Linked DNA regions of Homo sapiens. The protein of the gene in region 2 purifies or fractionates together with the protein of the main gene of each other region. This does not show direct contact. Each region holds a gene or a part of one and is shown on either strand. Other genes may lie near its edges.

What was found.
Region 1: the proteins of SETSIP (region 2) and ARMC9 purify together in Homo sapiens (co-immunoprecipitation; one large-scale study listed by IntAct). This does not show direct contact.
Region 3: the proteins of SETSIP (region 2) and ZNF627 purify together in Homo sapiens (co-immunoprecipitation; one large-scale study listed by IntAct). This does not show direct contact.
Region 4: the proteins of SETSIP (region 2) and ZNF90 purify together in Homo sapiens (co-immunoprecipitation; one large-scale study listed by IntAct). This does not show direct contact.

What each region holds. Positions count from the first base shown.
Region 1 is NC_000002.12:231,368,753-231,374,006, reverse strand, and holds part of ARMC9 (lisH domain-containing protein ARMC9), read right to left. Parts: intron 4,055-5,254; coding exon 3,882-4,054; intron 2,495-3,881; coding exon 2,472-2,494; 3' UTR 1-2,471. UniProt on the Homo sapiens protein: Involved in ciliogenesis. It is required for appropriate acetylation and polyglutamylation of ciliary microtubules, and regulation of cilium length. Acts as a positive regulator of hedgehog (Hh)signaling.
Region 2 is NC_000001.11:92,073,375-92,077,720, reverse strand, and holds SETSIP (protein SETSIP), read left to right. Parts: upstream 1-2,309; coding exon 2,310-3,188; downstream 3,189-4,346. UniProt on the Homo sapiens protein: Plays a role as a transcriptional activator involved in the early stage of somatic cell reprogramming. Promotes the differentiation of protein-induced pluripotent stem (PiPS) cells into endothelial cells and the formation of vascular-like tubes (in vitro).
Region 3 is NC_000019.10:11,599,605-11,604,858, reverse strand, and holds part of ZNF627 (zinc finger protein 627), read right to left. Parts: intron 650-5,254; exon of another isoform or gene 495-649; intron 1-494. UniProt on the Homo sapiens protein: May be involved in transcriptional regulation.
Region 4 is NC_000019.10:20,117,955-20,122,541, forward strand, and holds the end of ZNF90 (zinc finger protein 90), read left to right. Parts: coding exon 1-1,406; 3' UTR 1,407-3,211; downstream 3,212-4,587. UniProt on the Homo sapiens protein: May be involved in transcriptional regulation.

The sequences.
Region 1 (5,254 bases), on a different chromosome or scaffold from region 2:
GTGTACTCTCCCAGGGCGTGGCGCAGAGGCCTGGGTGATATTTTCAGCACTTTCCTGGAAGAACCACACATACCCCACCTGGTAATCTCAATGTATTTTTTTTTTTTTTTTGACGGAGTCTCTGTCGCCCAGGCTGGAGTGCAGGGGCGTGATCTTGGCTCACTGCATCTTCCATCTCCCGGTTCAAGCTATTCTTGTGCCTCAGCCTCCTTGAGTAGCTGAGATTACAGGCACCCACCACCACATCCAGCTAATTTTTTGTATTTTAGTAGAGACGGGGTTTCGCCATGTTGGCCAGGCTGGTCTCGAACTCCTGGAGGCCTCAAGTGATCCATCCGCCTCGGCCTCCCAAAGCACTGGGATTACAGGTGTGAGCCACTGTGCCCGGCCTAATCTCAGTGTATTTTGACCCTAAGTTGGATACTCCCCACTTCTCTAAAAGACTATCTTTTCTTCTCCTCAAACCATCAGACATCTACAGATCAGACTTTAGCTCTTTGGTAGGCTTGAGGGAAAAGTAGTGGTTGACTTCAGACGAGGGAGACACTGACCTGACCCCGATGATTCTCCCACCCCCGCTGGACTTCTGCTGCTCCCACACCAAGGGCGGGAAAGGCTGTGCCAGCCAGTGGCATCTGAGGAATCCGTAGGGGAGTGGACTTCTTGTGGGGAGCAAGAGAGATTTTTCCATTCCACTCCTTTGCTGTTTGTCTGCAACCACTCTACACCTTTTCAAAGTCTCACCACGGAGGAGTTGCATTTTGCGGACCCTCTGCTTTTCCTCTGTCTGCACCACTGACACCAGGGGCGAGCTTTGTGTTTGCTCCCAATGCCTCCGGGTCAAGTGAGGAGTTCAGAGAGGGCCTGGTGGCTGACAGGTCAGGACGGCAGCCTTCTTCCCTGAGCACAGAGTGGACACATTTCCAGAGAACCAAGAGGTGGCCACCAGGCCAGTCACATGACAGCATCTAATGTGCCCAGCCTGGAGCCGCTGCCAAGAATTCACGAGATGAACCAGGGTCCCGGCCCTGGATGAGCTTCTGGTCATCTCATGGGTAACCTGGCCTCCTGTTTACCTCCTCTGCCTGCGCTCCTGAGGAGTCAGGGGGCCATGGAAAAATCCAGCGCTTAGCCTTTATTTACGACCATTGGGACCAGAGATGTCCCCATTGAAGGGTCTGTGGGCAGATCAGGTGCCTGGGGGAGGGCACGCGACTTTTCTCTGCTTTCCATTTCCCTTCATACACTCATACACACACACACACACACACACACACACACACACACACACACACACACACACACACCACTAAATACTGATGGGTTTTATTTGATTTTAGAGCTTGGGTAACATCCAGGACACCTGTGACTTGCTGGTCCTGAAGGCAAACATCCTTCCTCTGTCCTAAGACTGGATTCTGATGACAGCCCTGGTGAGGGGCGTGCGCAGGCCTCCCCCGCGGGATGGGTCACTTTGCTGGTAGAGCTGTTTATGTTTATGGTCCCAGTGCAGGGAGGGAGGCAGAGGGTGCTCCCTGGTCACACTGGTGGCCTTTTTAAGGCCTTCAAAAAACGTGTGCAGAAGAGCAGAGCTTTGAAGAGGCTGGAACACACCATATTCTCAGAATTTTTTTTTTGGGGACGGAGTCTCGCTCTGTCACCCAGGCTAGAGTGCAGTGGCACGATCTCGGCTCACTGCAAGCTCCGCCTCCCGGGTTCACGCCATTCTCCTGCCTCAGCCTCCAGAGTAGCTGGGACTACAAGCGCCCGCCACCACGCCCGGCTAATTTTTTTGTATTTTTTTAGTAGAGACGGGGTTTCACCACGTTAGCCAGGATGGTCTCGATCTCCTGACCTCGTGATCTGCCCGCCTCAGCCTTCCAAAGTCCTGGAATTACAGGCGTGAGCCACCGCACCTGGCCTTCTTTCTCAGATTTTAACACAGGAAGAAAACACCAACTTTGCTGCTGAGACGCAGGCTTGAGAATAAAATGAGCTTCACCCTGAGTTCCTTCTGGGTCCTGGTAGTCAGCCCAAGTGAGGAGGGCTGGCTTCAGCAGCCTTGGAAAAGCCCTGCTCCAGGCTGGCCCTACACTGTCGCCCTGTTGGGGCCTGGAGGGCCAGGGCTGCAAATCCAGCACCTGCTGTTTCTGGGGCCAGAAGATCTCCTGCGGGCAAAAGCCACCCCTCTCCTCTGTGTGTGAAGGGTGAGCAGGAAATTCCCCTCTCCAGGAGGGCAATGCCAGGCTCTCCCCAGCCCTCCTTGGTGGCTCTGCCCTGGGAGAAAGTGACCCGGCTGGCGGGGCTGCGATGGCCTTGCTCTGGTGCTGCCTGGAGAGCCGGCCTCCCCTCAGCTCCCAGAGTCTTGTGGACAACTGTCCCTTCACATCCATCACCGGCAGCTGCTGCCAGCTGAGAGCGGGAAGCTGGCTGGTCCTCCGGCAACGTGATGGGGACACCCGGGGACATCCTTACTTCCTGTGAGACTGGCTGCCTGGAGAGAAAAGCCAGAGCAAGATGCCAGTGCTGTGTGGTCTCCGCACAGAATCCCCTCTGTCCCACTCAGTCCCTCTTTCAGCCGGCTCAGAAGCGAGGGAACCTTCCCTCTCCCAGGTCACCTGTTCTGTGGCCTGGGCTCGACTGGCGGGCCGGCTCTTTCCTCACAGGAAGCAGGCTGCTTGGTGCGGGTCACTCAGTCAGCTTTGCTGGCAACAGCTCACGTGTTTGTTGAGCCCACAGGACACACAACGCCCATGGCTGGCTGAGCTGTCCACACCGTGGCCACGCTATGCTGCTAGATGTGGGGCCAGGCCAGCCACCAGCTGCTGGTGTCACTGTTGCTATGACTGGGGATCCCTGCCCCAGTGGCACCTTCCTCCTGGCCGAGCCTCCCCTGGATTTGCTGCACCTCCTCTGCGCCTGACCTGGGCTGCGACTGGCTGGGCTGGGGTTTTGGGTGTGTTTCCCAGTGGGAAGTGGGAGGGGTCCCAACCTGGCTCCCCAGCCATGGCCATTACCCCCACTTCCAACCCAGCGTGTCCCCAGCTGACCAGAGCGCCCAGGGCCTGGCCAGGAAGGTAGTAGGGTGGGGCGGGCTGGGGGCGGCCAAAGAAATGCGCATATCCTAAGCGGGACTCCTTTCGTCCTGCCTGGCCTTTTGTTCTGTCCTTTTGTTTTCCCTGTGTTTTGGTAAAGCCCTCTAGAAAGGTTCAGCTCAGTTGGGGCGTGGAGGTGGAGGGGCTATCAATTGGCAGAGGCTGGAAGGGGACAGAGAAAGACAAAGAAGTGGTCCTTACAGTGAGCCTCAGGTGAGAGGGTGAGAGAGAGGCCCCAGGGAGAGAGTGGGGGCCCTTGGGCCCATCCCATCTTCAGGCCCTTCTGGCGGCCCCTCCATCCAGCCTGCGAGCAGACACCCGCTTCTGTTTGACCTGGGGGTGGCCTGACCGAGGCTGGGCCAGGCAGGGACACAGTGGCTGAACCAGGGGCTGGACCACCTCCCACCAGGGCAGGTCCGAGTTTCAGGGCCAACCCCGGGGCAGCAGGGCCAGCTCAGGGCCAACTCTGTGAGCTCCACAGAGGGAAGTGGGGAGGGGCTTCTCTCTCAGTGACCTGCCTGGAGGTCTCACTCCTCAGCTTGAGTTTGAGTCACTGAGGCCAAAGGGAATTTAATAGGAAGGAAGATTCATGCAGAACCGGTCCCTGGAGGAAAGGAAGCCACCTGCTGGGGCCTGGTTGTGTGGGGAAGGGAAGCAGGCCTTCTGCCCTTCTGGCCTGGCCTGGTACACACAGGAGCACGGGGCCAAATATAGCAGCAAAATGCCCTTCCCTGCAGGTTGGCGGGTGGCCAGGCTCCCACGCCAGTGGGGCCCAGGCTGACTTACTCGGCAGGCCCCTTGTGGAGGACGCTGTGGAGCCGGGGCGGCTGGCCTGCTGGGGGCCACACGAAGAGAACAGAGGGGCCAGAACTGACGCCTTTGCCTTGGGTGGGTTCCAGTCCAGCATCTCTGGAGTGCAGGGGGCCCGGGGCTTGCAGGTGAAGGCTGATGCACATTCCCTAGAACAAAACGTGCAACCTGGAGTCCCAGCTACTACAGCATTAGAAACCACAGGAGGGGCCGGGTGTGGTGGCTCCCGCCTATAATCCCAGCACTCTGAGAGGCCAAGGCGGACAAATCACCTGAAGTCAGGAGTTAGAGACCAGCCTGGCCAACATGGTGAAGCCCCGTCACTACTAAAAATTCAAAAATTAGCCGGGCGCGGTGGCGGGCACCTGTAATTCCAGCTCCTCAGGAGGCTGAGGCAGGAGAACCGCTTGAACCTGGGAGGAGGTTGCAGTGAGCCAAGACGGCACTGTTGCACTCCAGCCTGGGCGACAAGAGCAAAATTCTGTCTCAAAAAAAAAAAAAAAGAAACTGGCTGAGCATGGTGGCTCACGCCTGTAATCCAACACTTTGGGAGGCCGAGGCGGGCGGATCACCTGAGGTCAGGAGTTCGAGACCAGCCTGACCAATATGGTGAGACCCCCGTCTCTACTAAAAATACAAAAATTACCCAGGCATGGTGGCAGATGCCTGTAGTCCCAGCTAGTCAGGAGGCTGAGACAGGAGAATTGCTTGAACCTGGGAGGCAGAGGCTGCAGTGGGACAAGATCACGCCACTGCACTCCAGCCTGGGTGACAGAGTGAGACTCTGTCTCAAAAAAATAAAATAAAAAAAAAGAAAAAAAAGAAAGCACAGGAGGAAGGAGACGATGGGCATAAGGTGGGGAAATGCAGGCACCCATGGGCAAGAATCCCCATGCCATGGAGCCTTGGGTCCAGCCCCACCGCTCTCCAGATGGTGATTGCACGGGAGTTCCCTGACACCTTGGGAGCCTCAGTTTCCCTGCCTGTAAAATGTCTAAGGAACAGCTGTGAGAATTCAGTGAGGACATATCCTGGGCCCAGTTGTTAGCACCCCTTAGATGGAAGTATAGTTCTGGGAAGTAGGACTTGGGAGGAGACTGTGGGATTCTTTTGGTTTGATTTGTTTCTATATGCCTTTTTTTACATTGATAACATATCACTTTAATAATTAGAAAAATAGGCCGGGCGCGGTGGCTCATGCCTGTAATCCCAGCACTTTGGGAGGCCAAAGTGGGCAGATCACAAGGTCAGGAGTTCGCGACCAGCCTGGCCGGCATGGTGAAAACCCATCTCTACTAAAAATACAAAAAATTAGCGGGGCATGGTGGTATGTGCCTGTAATCCCAGCT
Region 2 (4,346 bases):
AAGTAACAACTAGGCTACTCTCTGGTTGGAAATGGGTGACAGAATGATTCCTGGTTCATGTTTTATCTTAAAACAACTTAAGTTAGGCCGGGTTTGGTGGCTCATGCCTGTAATCCCAGCACATTTGAAGGCCGAGTCGGGCAGATCACCTGAGGTCAGGAGTTCGAGACCAGCCTGGCCAACATGGCGAAACCCCGGTTCTACTAAAAATACCAAAATTAGCCAGGTGTGGTGGTGCATGCCTGTGGTCCCAGCTACTTGGGAGGCTGGGGCAGAGAATCACTTAACTATATCATTTCACTGCAGAGGTTGCAATGAGCCGAGATCGTGCTACTGCATTTCAGCCTGGGTGACAGAGCAAGACTCCGTCTCAAGAAATATATATATAAAAATAAAAAAACTTAAGGTAGCTTAGGCGGCTATGTGAAATGATTAAAGAATGAGTAAATACTCCCTTAAAAAACAAAACATGGCTGGGCATGGTAGCTCATGCCTGTAATTCCAACACTGGGAGGTTGAGGTGGGAGGATTGCTTGAAGCCAGGAGTTCGAGGCTGCAGTAAGTTATGATCACATCGCAGCACTGCACTACTTAGCCTGGGCAATAGAACAAGACTGTCTCTAAAAAAAAAAAAACAAAAAAACTTGTCATTGATGCTTCACATTCTACCATTAGATAATTTAACTTAAAGCATTATTTTTATTTTAATTCATCTCTATAGTCATTTATCCCTTAATGTGAGTGAGGTTTTCAGATGTTCTTCCTGAAATAATTTTTGATCAGGAGGAAAAGAGAGTTTAAGGAACTAGCGGTGGGAGCTGTGAAGGTAAACGTGGCTAAACTCCTAATTTGGTTTAGGGTCATCTTTAACTGTGATCTTAATGTGAGAAAAGTAAATTTAGGTAAAATTGCCTTGGAAGGAAAAACTTCTTTCAAGAACTCTAATCTCATGAAAGCAAACCCATTTTTGATGCATTATTTCTCCCTCTTTAAAAATGTTTAGGCTGAGCTTGGTGGCTCACACCAGTAATCCCAACATTTTGGGAGTCTGAGGTGGGAGGATTGCTTGAGCCCAGGAGTTCAAGAACAGCCTAGGCAGCATAGCAAGGCCTCGTCTCTACTTACTTACTTACTAAATAAATAAATAAATAAATAAATAAATAAATAAATAAATAAATAAAATTAAAGCCAGGTGTGGTGGCACATGCCTGTAGTCCTCGCTACTCAGGAGGCTGAGGTGGAAGGATCGCCTAAACCAGGGGTTAGAGGCTGCAGTGAGCCGTGATCGTGCCACTGCACTTCAGCCTGAGTGACAGAGTGAGACCCTGTTTCAAAACAAAAAATGAAAGTTTTAATATGAAAAATTTCAAATCCCAGCTACTCGAGGTTGAGGCAGGAGAATTGCTTGAACCTGGCAGGCAGAGTTTGCAGTGAGCCGAGATGGCGCCACTGCACTTGAGTCTGGGCGACAGAGGGAGACTCCATCTCAATAAATTTTTTTAAAAAAGCAAAAAGCTTTTCAGAGAGAGCAAGAGAGCTTGTTATGTTTTCCAGGCTGACCTTGAACTCCTGGGCTCAAGTGATCTTCCTGTCTCAACCTCCTGAGTAGTTGGAACTATAGGCATGTGCCACCATGCCCAGCTGAGTGGTGTTTTTTTGTGTTTGTTTTTGTTTTTTGTTTTTAAGAACTATATATAAAAATTCGCTGACCATGGTGGTTCACACCTGTAATCCCAGCACTTTGGAAGGCCAAGGTGGGCAGATCACCTGAGGTCCGGAGTTCGAGACCTGCCTGGCCAACATGGTGAAACTCTGTCTCTTCTGAAAATACAAAATTAGCTGGGCGTGGTGGTGCAGGCCTGTAATCCTAGCTACTCGGGAGGCTGAGGCAGGAGAATTGCTTGAACCTGGGAGGTGGAGGTCGCAGTGAGCCGATTATCAACCTACTGCACTCTAGCCTGGGTGACAAGAGTGAAACTGCATCTCAAAAAAAAAGAAAAAAGAACTATATATAAAAATTTAATGGATAAGACAGCTAAATATAAAAAGTGAAACTACATACTACTAGAAATAAAGTGGGTAAATTCCTTTATTACCTTGGAAAAAAGAATGCATGTGTATATGTATGTGTGTATTCCATATATTCCATGTACTCAGATGACCCCTTCTTAAACATAAGGTAACATGCATACTATATTTAGTATTCTGCATCTTATTTTTCCTCATTTAACAGTACATCCTACAGTGTTCTGCCTGCTTCCAGACGAGCAAGGAGACTCATGGTCTGGTTCTTGGACTTCCCTAACAGCATGGCCCCTAAACGCCAGTCTCCACTCCCACTTCAAAAGAAGAAACCAAGACCACCTCCTGCTCTGGGACTGGAGGAGACATCGGCCTCTGCAGGCTTGCCGAAGAAGGGAGAAAAAGAACAGCAAGAAGCAATTGAACACATTGATGAAGTACAAAATGAAATAGACAGACTTAATGAACAAGACAGTGAGGAGATTTTGAAAGTAGAACAGAAATATAACAAACTCCGCCAACCATTTTTTCAGAAGAGGTCAGAATTGATCGCCAAAATCCCAAATTTTGGGGTAACAACATTTGTCAACCATCCACAAGTGTCTTCACTGCTTGGGGAGGAGGACGAAGAGGCACTGCATTATTTGACTAAAGTTGAAGTGACAGAATTTGAAGATATTAAATCAGGTTACAGAATAGATTTTTATTTTGATGAAAATCCTTACTTTGAAAATAAAGTTTTCTCCAAAGAATTTCATCTGAATGAGAGTGGTGATCCATCTTCAAAGTCCACCAAAATCAAATGGAAATCTGGAAAGGATGTGACGAAACGTTCAAGTCAAACGCAGAATAAAGCCAGCAGGAAGAGGCAGCATGAGGAACCAGAGAGCTTCTTTACCTGGTTTACTGATCATTCTGATGCAGGTGCTGATGAGTTAGAAGAGGTCATCAAAGATGATATTTGGCCAAACCCATTACAGTATTACTTGGTTCCTGATATGGATGATGAAGAAGGAGGAGAAGATGATGATGATGATGATGATGATGGTGATGAAGGGGAGGAAGAATTAGAAGATATTGATGAAGGGGATGAGGATGAAGGTGAAGAAGATGAAGATGATGATGAAGGGGAGGAAGGAGAGGAGGATGAAGGAGAAGATGACTAATAGAACACTGATGGACTCCAACCTTCCTTTTTTAAAATTTTCTCCAGCCCTGGGAGCAAGTTGCAGTCTTTTTTTTTTTCTCTTGTGCTCAGTCACCCTGTTCTTCAGCTCTCTTTTCTCTACTCCATGGTTCTCAACTTATTTGGGGGGAAATACCTTGAGCAGAATACAATGGGAAAAGAGTCTCTACCCTTTTCTGTTCGAAGTTCATTTTTATCCCTTCCTGTCTGAACAAAAACTGTATGGAATCAACACCACCGAGCTCTGTGGGGAAAAAGAAAAACCTGCTCCCTTCGCTCTGCTGGAAGCTGGAGGATGCTAGGCCCCTGTATAGTAGTGCATAGAATTCTAGCTTTTTTCCTCCTTTCTCTGTATATTGGGTTCAGAGAGTACACTGTGTCTCTATGTAGGTCAAAGGGACAATATGGACAGTTAGCATTTACCAACACATATCTGTCTACTTTCTCGTGTTTAAAAAAAGAAAAAAAACTTAAAAAAATGGGGTTATAGAAGGTCAGCAAAGTGTGGATTTGAGATGTTTGGGTGGGTTAAGTGGGCATTTTGACAACATGGCTTCTCCTTTGGCATGTTTAATTGTGATATTTGACAGACATCCTTGCAGTTTAAGATGACACTTTTAAAATAAATTCCCTCCTAATGATGACTTGAGCCCTGCCACTCAATGGGAGAATCAGCAGAACCTGTAGGATCTTATTTGGAATTGACATTCTCTATTGTAATTTTGTTCCTGTTTATTTTTAAATTTTCTTTTTGTTTCGCTGGAAAGGGAAGATGATGCTCAGTTTTAAACATTAAAAGTGTACAAGTTGCTTTGTTACAATAAAAGTAAATGTATACACATACACACACACACACAAAAAAACAGTATATCCTAGAGGTTATGCCATACGAATGCAGGTCTTTGTTATTTCTTTTTATTATGACGGCAATTCCACTACATTTCACTCAGCTGCCATTTTAATTTCTTCTTTGAATGATTATTCATATCCTTTGTCCATTTTGCTTTTGGTCTTTTCTCTATTTTTAGATGTTGGAGATATTAGTGTTGTCTGTGATATAATTTGCAAATATATTTTTCCCATTTGTCATTTGTCTTCTGACTTGGCTTGGCTTTTGGTGGGTTTTTTTTTTCCCCTG
Region 3 (5,254 bases), on a different chromosome or scaffold from region 2:
TCTCCCTCACCTTGTACATTGGCTATAAATCCAATAATATTCCTGCTGCATTCAAGGCTGAATTCAATCTCCCTCCCCTATTACAGCTGTCATGACTCACTGCAATTGTGCTTAATAAACTTTTCCTTGACATTCTTAACAAGTTTCCAGTGCAATCTCTCTTTAACAGGGAACAAGGCTGTAAACTTGAGACCCTGGTTCATTTATCTGAAATGCATAGGGGATGACAGGCTCCCTCCCACTGGGGATGAAGGAGCTGGGAACCACACATGCCATTCTGCTGGGCCCACCCAAGTCTGAATCCATGGAGGGGGAGGGTGTCCTGAGAGTACCTCCCACCCACAAACCCAAAACACCAGGCTCAGATTTCTCTCTGGATGGCCACTCCCTGTTGTCACCCCATGATCTGGGTGAGATCCAGGATTGCAGGTGCACAACTGCCCAGAGAGAGGTCCAGGAGGTAGACTGCCTCCTACAGTGATGGGACAGGATACCTGGGAGTCCTGGCTGCCAATTCAGCCCCCACCCTGATGGAGTGTGATGGAGGGGACTGAGACTCAGGCTGCTTCTGGATAAGATGCCCCACCAGACACAGGATTTGCAAGTCGTTCTTCCACTTGGTGAATTATCTTTTCAAGTTCTTGGTGTCCTTTGAAGAACAAAAATTACCAATTTTGATGAAGTGTAAACTTTAGTTAGTAACATATTGGCTCACCAATTCTGATCATCATCATATATGATATATTGGTTCATCAATTATATGATATATATGATATCATATTTACGTACTTTGGGAGGCCAGGATGGGAGAATCACTTGAGCCAGGAGTTAGAGATCAGCCTGGACAACATAGTGAGACCCCCATCTACCAAAAAAAAAAAAAATTAGCCAGATGTGGTGGTGCACACCTGTGGTCCCAGCTACTTGGGAGGCTGAGGCGGCAGGATCACTTGAGCCCTGGAGGTCTAGCCTGCAGTGAGCAGTGATCGCACCACTGCACTCAAGCCTGGGTGACAGAGCAAGACTTCGTCTCTTAAAAAAAAAGAAAAGTAGGGGAAAACAATCACCTGTGGAGGAGAATAAGGAAACTCTAAGTATTATCTGTTCAATTTTTCTGTCAAACTACAACCGGTCTAAAAAATAAAGTTTATTAAGTAAAATAGTGAATAAAATACCATTTCATGGAAGATTCACAGCTATGTGAAATAGACAGATGGCATACAATATAACATATAGGATGATATCACTTCCACAAAAAACAGACAAAAATAAGGCCGGGCGTAGTGGCTCACACCTATAATCCCAACACTTTGGGAGGCATAGCTGGGTGGACTGCTTGAGCCCAGGAGTTCAAGACCAGCTTAGACAGCATGGCAAAACCCCGCCTCCACAAAAAAAAAAAATACAAAAATTAGCTGGTGTGGTACTGTGCACCTGTAGTCCTAGCTTGTTGGGAGACTGAGGTGGGAGAATCACTTGAGCCCGGAGGCAGAGGTTGCGGTGAGCCAAGAGCGCCACTGCACTCCAGCCTGGGCTACACAGTGAGACTCCATCTCAAAAAAAAAAAAAAAAAAGGCTAAGAATAGCCAAGATGTCGTACAAAATACAGTTAGGATTGTTAACAGACTGAATGTTTGTATTCCACCACCATCCCCTGCCCAAACTTTCATTTGCTGAAATCCTAACCCCCAAACTAAATGCAGAAACCAGCATGCGTGAAACAAACAGGCAAAGAAACCAAAAAAAAACTCTTTTTGGCATAATATTAATGGTAATAACTTACTAAAAATTCAAAAGAGGAAGAGCCAAGCAAAATTCAGCCTAATGATAAATAGATGGTAAAACTATGAAGAACCACCTTTTAAAAATGAGGACCTGGTCACCTGTGGGTACAGACGGGAGACAAGATCAGGACATACCAGAAATGCCCAATGCCCATTTATGAACCTGGGTAGTGAGTCCACAGGTGTTTCACACAACCCACTCTCCTCTCCTCACAGTGTGGAAATGCTCCCTCCTCCAGGGTCTCAATTCTCACCAGCGAACACTTACCCAGAGCCAGGTGAAGGTTCTGATCTCTAGTGTCTTTTTTCATATACCATTTCTGACACCAAATGTGTGGTGTTTGCTGAACACAACCAAATCTCCAATTCTCCAACACCAATTAAGCATTCAAATCAATTCTGACACTACCCAGAGTTAACGGGGACCCCACAAGTTCAGGGCTCATTACCATAACAGTGCCCCACTGCAGATGCCAGTCACAAGCCCCAGGGATCACCCATACTTCTCAGCAACTGCATATAAATCAGAAATGGCGAAATGGAAGGGATGGATGTAAGGGAAAATGGCGGCAGAAGATTGGGCAGGTATGTAATCCTGGAAATAGCTATGGTTAAAGAAACTCCCCCGTCTTTTGTATTCTGCAGGAGCAGGTTACGCAAAGAAACACTCTTCTCATTATGACTTAGATGACACTGCTTTTTTACCTATGACAAAGCCATACACAGACTAGAAATTCCCTTTATTTTCCTCACAATTGATTAGCTGAACAGCTCTGTCTTCAGTGATCAGTCAGAACAAAGTACCTGTTAACAAAACTTTGGTTAAGTTTCTCTTCTTCCTCCAGCCCCTGAACTTTGACCCACCCCCAGCCTGAGCCTATATACAACCCCTCTGATGACCCTCCTAAGAAGAGACTGCCTTCAGGATCTAGGTGGGATTTTGCACCCTGCATCCTGCCTTCCACCTCCCACCTTCTTTCTCATCATTTGCTCCTCCCTACAAAAGAAAATCCTTTTCTGCATAAACTCTGAGATGCTTGCAGATTTTTTTTTTTTTTTTTTTTTTTTTGAGACAGAGTCTCACTCTGTCGCCCAGGCTGGAGTGCAGTGGCGCGATCTCGGCTCACTGCAACCTCTGCCTCCTGAGTTCAAGCGATTCTCCTGCCTCAGCCTCCCGAGTAGTTGGGATTACAGGCACGCACCACCATGCCCGGCTAATTTTTGTATTTTTAGTAGAGATGGGGTTTCACTATGTTGGTCAGGCTGGTCTCAAACTCCTAACATTGTGATCCACCCACCTCGGCCTCCCAAAGTGCATGGATTACAGACGTGAGCCACCACGCCCAGCCTGAGATGCTTGAAGATTTTATACTTGGTGCCTTCTCCCCTTTCGATTATCCTTTAGAATAGTCATTCCTGTCTGGTGTGGTGGTGCTCCCCGCCCCACCCCCATAATCCTGGAATTTGGGGAGGCTACGGTGGGAGGATTGCTCGAGGCCAGGAGTTAGAGACCAGTCTGGGCAACATAACAACGTCCTGTCTCTCTTAAAAAAACTTTTTTAAAAATATAAGCCAGGCATCATGGCACATGCCTTTAGTCCTAGGTACTTGGGAGGCTGATGTGAGAGAATTCCTTGAGCCCAGGAGATCAAGGCTACAGTGAGCTATGATCGCACCACTGCACTCCAGCCTAGGAGACAGAGTGAGACCCTGTCACACACAAAAAAAATAAATAAATAAAAATAAAATAAATCACTCCTTACCTAAATCCAGATTTGTTTCATTAGAAACGTCTACAAACAGACCCAAGATAATAGCAAGTACATTCTCAGAAAGGCATCACCTCAACCACCTCTGCCTATGAATCCCCAGCTTTCCAGGGCTCTGAGCTTCTCTCACTATAAAGGGCTCCACCCAAAGTCAGTTGTGAGCAGCTGGGACACTGCAGGGGAGGCTCCTCAGCAAGAACCACTGGGCCTGTAATGTCCTCTCTTTGAAGGCTCAAGATTGGTCTTAGTTTCAAGTCACTAGTCTGCTGTCTCTGTTTCCCAGTCAAGGTTATGCATTTAATTTTCAATGAGAAAATACCCAGGGTTTGAAGATTCCAGTAAAATCACTCAAATTCACTGTTTATAGCAAGGAAGGAAATTGTAAGGCACTTATATTTCATACCTTAACAGGAAAAGTAAAAGTATCCATCCTCTTCAGACAATAAACATGTTATTTATTCTTTCTATGGTAACAAATCATGTACTAAATCATATTGGAACACTTCTAGGAGTTACCAAGTCCTGTCCTACTAGGACTTCGCATTAAACTCTGATGTCTAGATAACAGGAAGAGAACAGTTATCCACTGTCACAAGTTTGCCACCCTGCAAAGCAGAGGAATTGATGTTTTGGTGAATCTCTGTAATTCACCAATTTATTTGCTACACTTACTTGTGGAAATGTATTCATTTTCTGCAGTCATGATAGAAGAGAGTTTTCTCTCTCTCTTTTCCTTAGTATTCCCAACACTAAGCCCTGGAATTCCATTTTAAATCACCACACCCCACCCCCACAAAAAAAAACAACATACTTGAGAAACTTACTACACTTGCTTTGGGAAAGAAAAAAATAATAATTTTTTTTTTGAGATGGAGTCTTGCTCTGTTGCCCAGGCTGCAGTGCAGTGGCGCAATCATGGATCACTGCAAGCTCCGCCTCCCAGGTTCATGCCATTCTCCTGCCTCAGCCTCCCAAGTAGCTGGCACTACAGGCACCCGCCACCATGCCCAGCTAATTTTTTGTGTTTTTAGTAGAGACAGGGTTTCACTGTGTTAGCCAGGATGGTCTCGATCTCCTGACCTCGTGATCTGCCTGCCTCAGCCTCCCAAAGTGCTGGGATTACATGCGTGAGCCATCGCGCCCAGCCATAAGTAATAATTTTTAACAAACATAAGACTAGATATTTAATGTTTTCTGAAATCCACTTCCTTCTTGCCTCTTTGCAAAACTGTCTTATATTTCAAGGTCTACTGATGAAATACATTTATAGTTACTTAAAAAAGAAAAAAACTGAAACTGCAATAAGTGAACAAATCTTTTGCAGGGGACAAACCCAGGAAGGGGCTGCGCTAACCTGGAACAGAGGTACGTCTGACTCAAGTTTCACATCTTTTTTTTTGAGACAGAGTCTCGCTCTGTCACCCAGGCTGGGGTGCAGTGGTGTGATCTCGGTTCACTGCAACCTTTGCCTCCCACGTTAAAGCGATTCTCATGCCTCAGCCTCCCCAGTAGCTGAGATTAGAGGCACCTGCCACCACACCCAGCTAATTTTTGTATTTTTTAGTAGAGACAGGGTTTCGCCATGTTGGCCGGGCTGGTCTCGAACTCATGGCCTCAAGTGATCCGCCCACCTCAGCTTCCCAAAGTGCTGGGATTACAGGTGTGAGCCACCGCGCCCGGCCTAAGTCAGGTCATTCTATC
Region 4 (4,587 bases), on a different chromosome or scaffold from region 2:
ACCAATGTTTGACAGCTACCCAGAGCAAAGTATTTCAATGTGATACATATGTGAAAGTCTCTCATATATTTTCAAATTCAAACAGACATAAGATAAGAGATACTGGAAAAAAACCTTTCAAATGTATAGAATGTGGCAAAGCTTTCAACCAGTCCTCAACCCTTGCTACACATAAGAAAATTCATACTGGAGAGATAACCTGCAAATGTGAAGAATGTGGCAAAGCCTTCAACAGGTCCTCACACCTTACTTCACATAAGAGAATTCATACTGGAGAGAAACGGTACAAATGTGAAGATTGTGGCAAAGAATTAAAGTATTCCTCTACCCTTACTGCACATAAGAGAATTCATACTGGAGAGAAACGGTACAAATGTGAAGATTGTGGCAAAGAATTAAAGTATTCCTCTACCCTTACTGCACATAAGAGAATTCATACTGGAGAGAAACCCTACAAGTGTGATAAATGTGGCAGAGCATTTATTTCATCCTCGATCCTTTATGTACATAAGATAAGTCATACTGAAGAGAAACCCTACAAATGTGAAGAATGTGGCAAAGCCTTCAAGCTCTCCTCAATCCTTAGTACACATAAGAGAATCCATACTGGAGAGAAACCCTACAAATGTGAAGAATGTGGCAAAGCCTTCAGGCGCTCCTTAGTCCTTCGTACACATAAGAGAATTCATACTGGAGAGAAACCCTACAAGTGTGATAAATGTGGCAAAGCATTTATTTCATCCTCACTCCTTTATAAACATAAGATAAGTCATAGTGAAAAGAAACCCTACAAATGTGAAGAATGTGGCAAAGCCTTCAAGCGCTCCTCAACACTTACTATACATAAGATAAGTCATACTGAAGAGAAACCCTACAAATGTCAAGAATGTGACAAAGTCTTCAAACGCTCCTCAGCCCTTAGCACACATAAGATAATTCATAGTGGAGAGAAACCCTACAAATGTGAAGAATGTGGCAAAGCCTTCAAGCGCTCCTCAAACCTTACTACACATAAGATAAGTCATACTGAAGAGAAACTCTACAAATGTCAAGAATGTGACAAAGCCTTCAAGTACTCCTCAGCCCTTAGCACACATAAGATAATTCACAGTGGAGAGAATCCCTACAAATGTGAAGAATGTGGCAAAGCCTTCAAGCGCTCCTCAGTCCTTAGTAAACATAAGATAATTCATACTGGAGCGAAACCCTACAAATGTGAAGAATGTGGCAAAGCCTTTAAGCGCTCCTCACAGCTTACTAGTCATAAGATAAGTCATACTGGAGAGAAACCCTACAAATGTGAAGAATGTGGCAAAGCTTTTAACTTGTCCTCAGACCTTAATACACATAAGAGGATTCATATTGGACAGAAAGCCTACATAGTGAAGAACATGGCAAATCTTTGAAATATTCCTCAACCCTTAATAAACATAAGATAATTCATACTGGAGAGAAACCGTATAAATGTGATGACTGTTGGAAAGCCTTTGACCACCCCTCTACTCTTACTAAATATGAGAATTTATATGAAACATAACTCCTACAAAAATAAAGAATGTGACAAATCATTTTAAGGAAGTTCTCAACCCTTACTACACATAATTCATACTGGACGGAAACTCTACAGGTGTGAAAAATGCAGCAAAGCCTATAACAAGTTCTCAATTCTTTTTTTTTTTTTTTAAGAAGGAGTTTCATGCTTCTCACCCAGCCTGGAGTGCAATGGCACGATCTCTGCTCACTGCAACCTCTTCCTCCTGGTTCAAGCCATTAACCTGCTTCAGCCTCCACCACCATGCCCAACTAATTTTTGTATTTTTGGTAGAGACAGGGTTTTGCCATATTTAACAGGCTGGTCTCCAACTGTGATTCACACACCTTGGCCTCCTAAAATGCTGGGATTACAGTCATGAGCATCCATGCCCAGCCACAAGTTCTCAGTTCTTAAGAGACATGGTGATAATTCATGCTGAAGAGGAACTTTACAAACTTGAAAGATGTGACAGTGCTTTTACCACCACCTCCAACTTTTCTGTACATAAAGATGATTATACTAGTGTGAAACCCTAGAAATAATAGAAAATTTGACAAATCCTTTATATGGTTGCAAGACTTGATTGTAGGTAAGATAATTCATACTGGCAAAACTCCTACAAGTGTGAAGAATGTGGGAAAACTTTTTAATCAGTGCATACACCTTATTTCACAGGAAAGCTAGTATCCTTGAGAAAAATTGCACAATTATAAAAAATATGGAAAACCCATTAATGCCTACTCACATCTTACCCAACAGAAGGTGGTTCACAGTTAATGAAAGCATTTAAAGTGCAATTATGCTCAAGAAATCTTTCAGAAAATAGAAGCCTTTAAAGTGAAGAAGAGTATTCTGAAGACAACCATTACACATATAAAGGGGGTTGTATTACCTTTACTTGCATCACAGATTTCATTGCACACATTTTGTACTAGAGGAAAACCCTGAAGCAGTTGCTCCAGCTTTGTTCAACAACAGGGAATTTATGTTAGAGAAGAATCCTGCAAATGTAGTGAATTTGGAAACAAATTTTTTTTCAAAAACTACAGCTTAGAAAACACCAGAGAGTTGATACTAAAATATATGTTTGCAGAAACAGTAAATATAAAAAATATTTAATTCAAAATGAATTCCATGTAAATATCAGAGAATTTACAGTAGAATAAGGCACTGATACTTCAGACATTACACTAAAACAGTGTTGAGTATAAAAAAGAATCCACAACAAAAATTGTTAGATAAATTATATATAGCTTTAAAAGGTTTTTTGAAGCATTGTAATTACATTGAAAGTATACTTGCTTTCTTGAGAAAAAATTTTTGAAAAGTGAATAAGGTAATAGAGCTTTCAAATTTATGCTGTTACTTTATTTCTATTCACATGTGAAAGCATGTGATCAATTGATGCTGCATCAGAGATATTACAGATTCTTTATTGGGCATTCCTTATAACCTTTTCTATTAAAGAGAAAGGATATTAAAATGTAAGATGCATGATGAAAATATAAGTGGACAGGCTGTTCGTATTTGACCTATATTAAGTAATGTATAAGGTAGTGTTCAGAGTAATACTTTTCTACATTATAGTGAGAGAAATTATGAATTACAGTTAAAGGTATATTAAATTACTGTATTATTTTACTAATTTTATGTAATAAAATACACTACATTAAAAAATTGTTAGATTGTGTGTGAAGTTAATTTTGTTGTATCCATTTATTTTTTTTTTTGAGATGGAGTCCACTTTCTCATCCAGGCTGGAGTGCAGCAGCGCAATCTCTGTGTGATCATTGCAACCTTCACCTCCCAAGTTCAAGCGATTCTCCTGCCTCAGTCTCCCAAGTAGCAAGGACTACAGGTGTGTGCCACCATGCCCGGCTAATTGTTTCACCATATCAGTCGGGCTAGTTTCGACCTCTTGAGCTCAAGTGATCCACCTGCCCCGGCTTCCCAAAGTGCTGAGATTGGCCTAGTTTTATTTTATTTTTTACCATATTAAGACTATTTTGCATTTAATGAAGCCATATTATGCCACTAACTTTAACCTATCCCACCTTACTCAAGGGTATAGTTACAAGATGGTAGCAGTATACTATTTGGTATATAGTAGAATAACATCATTAGTAATCACTTTGCCAGTGGCTTTAAATTAATTGAGTTGAAGAATATTTTTCCCATAGGTTAAATTTTTATTCTTACAGAAATTTATTCTTAGTATTTGTGGGTATATAGTATGTGTTTACGTTTATGCTTTATATGGCATACTGTGATTCAGGACTACAATATGTAGTAATTACATTAGGGTAAATAAGGTATCCATCACGTCTAGCATTTATCCTTTGTATTACAGTGTAATTATACACTTTTAGTTATTTGAAAATGTACAATTAAATTTTAATTGACTACAGGGTTATTTTTATGGTCGTAATAAAAATTATACAGAAATATAAAAAGAATATGGCCAGATGAAGTGGCTCATGCCTGTAATCCCAACCATTTGGGAGGCTGAGGCAGCTGGATTGCCTGACGTCAAGATTTCAAGACCAGCCTGGCCAACATGGGGAACCCCTGTCTCTAAAAATATAAAAATTAGCCAGGCATAGGAGCACCTGCGTGGAGGCTGAAGCAGGAGAATAGCTTGAACAAGGGAGGTGGAGTTTACAGTGATCCGAGATTGCACCACTGCATTCCAGCCTAGGCAACATTTCTGAGTCCTGAAAAATTATTAATAAATATTTGTTACATAGTTTTCTATAAACTTGTGGTTTCTCTGCCTGCAAACACAAGAGTTTTAGTTTTAATTTTCATAGAGTGAAATATCCACATATTACTCTGAAGGTAAACCTTAGGTGTAAGAAAAATATAAAGTGAGTAAGTGTATTTGTGAGTTTGCTTTGGTACATATTTTCAGAAGAAAAGCACAATTATTGAAACAAAACAACTTATTTTAATTTGGTGAATAACAGAAAACACCTTCAAAATGTTGAAAGCAAATCTACACTTTCTGCTTTGTATTGAATTTATTAATGTAAAATTTTATAGCTTATGTTTCA